Homo sapiens: one gene and its partner. The protein of the gene in region 1 interacts with the protein of each later gene in a pairwise test. Each region holds a gene or a part of one and is shown in the gene's direction. Other genes may lie near its edges.

Region 1 (3,755 bases):
TCTATTGTATTACTTAATTGATACCACAAGGTGGTACTGTTGTACCATGAAATGAAAGGCTGTAATTAGTACCACATAAATCCTGTGACTAAATGAAACGAATTGACTACCTATTATGTTTATTGCCTGCTTCATTTATTTATAATTTCAACATACGATTAGTCTTTGATTACATGATTGGGTCAGGCAGTGAGCTCATAACCTAAATAAAGAACATTTGGTTCAAATTTTTATAAAAACATTAAGTGAGATGGCATCTTAAAAAACCTAGCATAGTACCAATGTAGTTTCTTTTTCCCACTTTTAATTTACTTTGGGTTAAATGCCTTTGTTAAATTGTCAGTTGCGGTGAAATAATTTGCCCAAAATTTTCTAGTAAATTATCACTGAAGGTTAAATAGTATTGTAAGTCTGTTTTTTGTTGTCAGAAGTGCTTAAAAAATTAATACCAAACCTAGATTTATATTTTTTCCCTCACTTCAAAAAAATTTTTTTATTTTGCTTTCATGTTTCTTTTATGGAGTCCATACAATATTTTATTAATGTTTAGTTCTTTATTATACATTTGTACATATATAATCATAGTATAATCATAGTGTATAAAGTAAGTCGATTTATAATTTCTCTTGGTTTTACCCCTATTTTAAAAACTAAGCATTGAAAAGTTTGTTTTGTAGCTTGTACCTTTTTGTTTCCTTATGATGGAATTGACTTTTGAATATTTTGATTCTATAATTTTCCTTAGACTGAAGTGAAATCAGAAGAAGGCCCAGGTTGGACGATCCTACGTGATGATTTCATGATGGGAGCATCTATGAAAGACTGGGACAAGGAAAGTGATGGGCCAGATGACAGCAGACCAGAATCTGCAAGTGACTCTGATACATAAAGCATCATAGGAAATACAATTGCAGTCGTTTTATTTTTTCTAGAAAAATATGTCATCCTCTGATAGTTGGGGAATTATAAGGATACCATTTGTAAGAAAGCCAAAAGACTTTTGCCAGATTTCATATTTCCCCTTTTCATGTACACTTTATATATACTTCATTAAAATTATATTTTAAACCCTTGTATAATTTTAAGCATTGTTCCTCAGAACATTTGTAAAAGGATATATTTCTGCTTGACCAGCGAGATGTGCATTTTGCCAGGATCATATTGGTCATGTCTATTGGTGTATTATTTCAGTATCACCAATGTTTTCAGAAATACAGTACTAATTCATCATTAAACTCTTTGAAGTTAATATTTTTCTGCCTTCTAACTTATAGACTCAACTATGTATCTGTAGTTTTTGGGAATGGTTGGTGTTTTTTGCTTTGTGTTGGGAAGTTATTGAGAAAACCTATATAATAAAATTTAAAATTATAGTTTTTCAGATTTTGGGTCGTGATTTTAGTTTTAGGTAATCTGGAAGATATGATTTAAGAAACAACAGATTTCAACTTTTTTTTTTTTTTTTTTTTTTTTTTTTTTTTTTTTTTTGAGACGGAGTCTTGCTCTGTGGCCCCGGATGGAATGCAGTGGCGTGATCTCGGCTCACTGCAAGCACCGCCTCCCAGGTTCACGCCATTCTCCCACCTCAACCTCTCAAGTAGCTGGGACTACAGGTGCCTGCCACCACGCCCAGCTAATTTTTTGTTTTTGTATTTTTAGTAGAGACGGGGTTTCACCATGTTAGCCAGGATGGTCTCAATCTCCTGACCTCGTGATCCACCCGCCTCGGCCTCCCAAAGTGCTGGGATTACAGGCGTGAGCCACTGCGCCCGGCCCAGATTTCAACTTTTATTTTATTTCCTTTCATTTATTAAATAATATAAATAATGACAGATTTATTTTAGGTGTTAGCCTATTTTTGCATGAGAGATTTACAGAGGTGGAAATTCTCATGCTTAACTTATGCAATGAGACAATTTCTCAGGAAGCAAGTTTGACATGCTTTAGTCTCTCTCTTCTTTTTTTTCCTCCCAAATATTTGAGTTAGCTTAAATTCTTTTTTATGGACTGCCCAACCAGTGAATTGATGCACTTAGACAACAAGTAATCTGCAGCAGAATATTGCATCCAATTTGAGACTTGATTCCATATTATTGCCTTAAAGGCTATTAAATTGGGTGACTTTTAGTATCCAGCTGTTAAAAAGAGGAAAGACTGTTTAATATCATTCCAAAATTTTTGTGAAATGTGGCCCAAGATCTAAAGTTTTTAAGGGAATTATTTTTAATAAATATGATCTGTCCCTTTTTGAAAAGGATCCATCCCTTTTCATAATAAAAATAATTCCCTCCTACCACCCAGTTGCACATACTTGCATCTGTTATGTATTGAAGGATAATCCCCCCCAAAAAAACTATCCAAGAGCAGAGATGTTTATATTTTGAAACCCATTTGAGTGTTACAGTATTATATGACTAAAGCTGAATCAGTCTGTGGCCTGGTATTTGTTATCATAAAGGAAGATGTACACCTAAGGTATCAAGTGGTTAAAACAGCAAAGTACAAGATGCATTTTTGTATTTATTCTAACTTTTGAACATTAGTGTCTTTCAGTATAAATAAATGTGAACAAATATACCTCAGTAGTAATACAGGAGAACTAAATATCCTGCTATAACTTAATACAGATACATATTTCAATATGACTTAACAAACACACAATTTTGAAAAAAAAAAAAAAAAAGTGCAGCAACTTAAACACATTTTTCTCCCCAGAACTAAGATTACACTTAATTTAATTTAATGTGTTTCTGCGTTATACTAGAGTTTTGCAGGAATTTTTCTGAATAGTACATTCACATGATAGATACGGATAAATACCTTATTTACTAAAATGTTTTGAAACATATTTTATAGTCCCTCATTTGATTTGAAAAAATTTGACAAGATCTTCACATTGAAAGTAAGGACGAGAATATTTGCAGATTTCCTTCGTTCCAAAATTATTTTATTCCAAAGAAAAATTGAGTTGCCACTATCAGGAAAAAAAAAATGTATCACTTCTGTTAGAAGGCTATGAAGTATATATAAATTATATGACAATTTTTATCATATAGATTTGATATCTTCTATGTATTCGTATTTTTGCATCTTGGGTATTAAGCAAAATACCATATGTATAAATATGAAACCAGGAATGTGCATATTTTAGAAACTAATTGTGTATCTTAAGTGAATGTTTTGAGTAGTTCTGTCACCCCTATTCTAAATATTTTACCTACAACATTTAAATTATTCTGATATCAATCAGATAAATAATCCGAGTGTATTTCATCTTTCTACATTGTCTTTGTGGTTTTTGTTTGTTTGTTTTTGAGACGGTCTCACACTGTCACCCAGGCTGGAGTGCAGTGGTGCAATCTCAGCTCACTGCAACCTCCACCTCCCAGGTTCCAGCTATCCTCCCACCTCAGCCTCCCAAGTAGCTAGGACTACAGGTGTGCACCACCATGCCCAGCTAATTTTTTGTCTTTTTGATGTAGATGGGGTTACCCCATGTTGCCCAGGCTGGTTGTGAACTCCTGAGCTCAAGGGATCCCCCCGCCTCTTGCCTCCCAAAGTGCTTGGATTACAGGTGTGAGCCACCATACCACCTGTCTTTGAATTTTTTAACGAGGGGAAAGAAAACTGCAATTCCTGCCTCCCCATTTATTTAAACATAACACCTAGGATTTTATTTTTGGTAACTACTTAGAATAATATAGTAGGTTACTTATCTTCGGTTAGAAAGAACTATGGAAAATAGGAACCAATAA
Region 2 (3,755 bases), on another chromosome or scaffold:
TTAAGAAATTATAATTTTATGACTGTCTGGCAGGCTCTGTCAGTTTAGCCGCGCCGGACCGTGTCAAGCATCTAGGAGAGGAGTCCATGGTGTCCAGGCATCGGGGCGTCACACCTGTTGAGGAGTGGGGTGGCTTTGAATGCTGGAAATGGCTTCATAGTGAAGTGCCTCCCACAGGGCGGGTGGGTCAGCGTTGACTCTTTCCAGCTGCACACTCATATGCCGTGTGTCTTATTCAGAAGTCACATTCTTTTCAGTTGGAGAGAATTGGGCTAAGATAGAAAATAACATGATTTGTTCCTTATTAAAGCTTCCCAGCGTATGAAATTCTAAGCTGGGTGGGGTGGCTCACACCCGACGTAATCCCAGCACGTTGGGAGGCCGAGGCAGGTGGATCACTTGAGGCCAGGAGTTCGAGACCAGCCTGGTCAAGATGGTGAAACCCCATCTCTACTAAAATTACAAAAATTAGCCGGGTGTCGTGGCACACACCTGTAATCCCAGCTATTTGGGAGGCCAAGGCAGGAGAATTGCCTGAACCCGGGAGGCGGAGGTTGCAGTGAGCTGAGATCGCACCACTGCACTCCAGCACTCCAGCCTGGGTGACAGAGCAAGACTCTCTCTCAAAAAAAAAAAAAAAAAAAAATTCTAGACCGAAGTGTACGGCAGTGCCATCTGGTGGCAAGTGGTACAAAGACAACGCTGAGGGGTAGTGACTCCTGTAGCAGCAGAGACGCCTTGGAGTTTAACCCCCACCAACCAGAGCGTGGGCTGGTAAAGATGAAATCTTGCAAGTTTTTTTTTTTTTTAAATCATGGTACCTGTTTTAAAATGAGAAGTTATTATTCATACTGTGTTGCTCATTTGACAAAATAAGGTAAGGATTTCATAATCAGGTTGTCTGGGTTTCAGAGCTGTTTTTAATTGACTGAGTTACCTACAGGCACCCAATCTAGACCCTAATTCTGTGGTTGGTGTTCCTCTGTAGATTTCAAGACAAGTAGTGATGTCATTTTCTCCCTGAGCTGTAGGGTGGACCTGGACCCCTCAGAGATGCTCGACTGCAGGGTCCTGGGGTCCCTAGAGTGGTCCTGCAGCAGCCCCTGGCAATGAGCTGCCTGATGATGAGTCCCAAGGTACATTGTTCTACTGTTTTATACCCAGGTAGAAGTTACACAGCAATTTAGCAATGTTGTTAACAGACATACAGAATTGTGTGTGTGTGTGTGTGTGTGTGTGTGAGTGTTTTGATATAAACGTGCAATTAAAATTCAAAGTTTATTTTTTATCACAAGCACCTTTGAAATGTACGTGGAAAACGTCGGCTGCTCGTGAGAATCATGTGTGACTTACGTTCCTTATGTTTTATGGAACTCTCGGAACAGTGTTTTGTTTTTGTTTAGTTTTTGTTTTCGTTTTTTTGAGACGGAGCCTGGCTTTGGCTCCCAGGCTGGAGTCCAGTGGTGTGATCTCGGCTCACTGCAACCTCCACCTCCCGGGTTCCAGGGATTCTCCTGCCTCACCCTTTCAAGTAGCTGGGATTACAGGTACCTCTACCATGCCTGGCTGATTTTTTGTATTTTTAGTAGAGACAGGGTTTCACCATGTTGGCCAGGCTGGTCTCTGACTCCTGACTAAAAGTGATCTGCCCACCTCGGCCTCCCAAAGTTCTGGGATTACGGGCGTGAGCCACTTCACCCGGCCCGGAGCGGTGTATTTTGATTGCTGGTGCTTTAACTATATTGACCAAGGTGTATAGTAACCTATTTATCACATTTTACGAAGCAATTTTAATCTTAAACACATCCAGCAAATGGTGTCCCTGCTGAAACTTTTAACTGGAAACCTCACACCTGGCAGGCAGCACTCTCTGCAGCCGTGCCCTTGTGGAGTCAGCAGGAGCTGGTGTTTTTCAGCCAGACAGAGGCATAATAAAGTGACTGATGTTTACAGAACCCAAATGATGTCTTCCTCTCTCTCAAAATAAACTAACCTATTCATATTGCTGTGAATGCTTTATCTTGGAGATAGAAAATATAATGATAAATTCATCATGTGTTCAGAATTCGATTTGGAGTTGGAAGTGGACAGCCTAATTTTTATCTCACCTCCACTAGGACTTTGACCTTCCCAGGGGTCCACACTTTACCTCCTGTATCTTCATACGCGTGTGTGGATGCATAGAGATGGAGGTGCTGTAGAGAAGCACAGGCTCACCCGCTCCGTCCAGTGTCACCCACACATTGGTCCGGGGACCCCTCAGTGCAGAGCCTGAAGTTGGGGGTTTAGGGGTGGAAAAGGCTTCGTGAAATGTTAATGATGCGTACACCTTCCAGATGGCACAGCACTTTCCCATGGTCCTCACTGGCCTCAGTCTCCCTGACCGGCAGTGTGAGGGGATGTAGCTATAGTGGAGCATGGTACAAGCGACATTCATGAGCTCTGACTTCTTGGTGCCAGGTTGGTGTGAGCCTGGGCCCGGCCCACTCAGCGGCCCACATTGGCCAGCATTCAGCTGCACGTGTGTGCTGCGTGCTTCACATCCTCTATTGAGAGTTACAGCAAGTGTTAAACGAGGTGAGTTCACATAACAGGAATTCTGGAACTGCTTGAAAACTAGGACGATTGGGCAATATCGGCCTTAACTCCACCTGATGGCAGGTGACCCGGATAGAAAATGGCCCTGCGTTTAGCCAGGATGTGGCTCTCCAGCTTGGCTTCAGTGTGATCACTTGTCAGTGCGCTTTCTCTTTCGATAGTGAAATCCTTCTCTATACCTATGTTTTGTTTTGTTTCTTAAGTTGGGAAACAGAATGGGCCAGGGAGGTTGAGTGACTGAAGACCAAGGGTTGGTGCAGCCTCCTCGCCGCGCTGCGGGGGCTGGGCCGCACAGGCTTCTGCCCTTCTCGGTGTCCAGGCTCCTTGGGTGATGCTGGAGTTGTCATGGCCGCAGTTCAGTGTGAGATTTTTTACCAGGTATTGCGCTTAAGGGACATGATTTTCCATTTTCTTCGCCCGGACAACTTGAATGAAATGGGCACTGTTGATTCCACTTCTGTCGAGGAGCTTCGGGGCTCAGAGAGGTGATGACGTGCCCAAGGTGACGCAACTCGTGAACAGCCGTGCCTGCCTTGGGCGCAGCCTCCGGCGCCAGAGCTGGGCTCTTCAACACGGCATTTAGCGCAGAAAGTCGTGGTTCAGGCAGTATGGGCCGCTGTGACAAAACACCTAAGACTGGGTAGTTTATAAAGAACAGACATTCAGGCCAGGCACGGTGACTCACGCCTGTAATCCCAGCACTTTGGGAGGCCGAGGCGGGTGGATCATTTGAGGTCAGGAGTTTGAAACCAGCCTGGCCAACATGGTGAAACCCCATCTCTACTAAAAAAACAAAACTAGCTGGGGGTGGTGGTGCATGCCTGTGGTCCCAGCTACTTGGGAGGCTAAGGTAGAAGAATTGCTTGAACCTGGGAGGCAGAGATTGCAGTGAGCCGAGATCACGCCATTGCACTCCAGCCTGGGTGACACAGTGAGACTCCATCTCAAAAAAAAAAAAAGAACGGACATCATTTCTCACAGTTCTGGAGGCTGGAAGTCCAAGATAAAGGTGTGGGCTGATTAGTTTCTGCTGGGAACACTGCATCCTCACGTGGTGGAGGGGATGGAAGGTCAACAGGCCTCAGCTAGTTCTCCGCTGCCTTTTTATGAGGCATTAAGCCATTTGCAAGAGTAGGGGGCCCCACCTCTTAATACCA

The links. The genes of interacting proteins can lie anywhere in the genome.
Region 2: the proteins of RRP15 (region 1) and CLN8 interact in a two-hybrid assay, tested with the Homo sapiens proteins (one study listed by BioGRID).

Annotation. Positions count from the first base shown.
Region 1 is NC_000001.11:218,330,203-218,333,957, forward strand, and holds part of RRP15 (RRP15-like protein), read left to right. Parts: intron 1-745; coding exon 746-889; 3' UTR 890-3,755.
Region 2 is NC_000008.11:1,780,741-1,784,495, forward strand, and holds part of CLN8 (protein CLN8), read left to right. Parts: 3' UTR 1-3,755. UniProt on the Homo sapiens protein: Could play a role in cell proliferation during neuronal differentiation and in protection against cell death.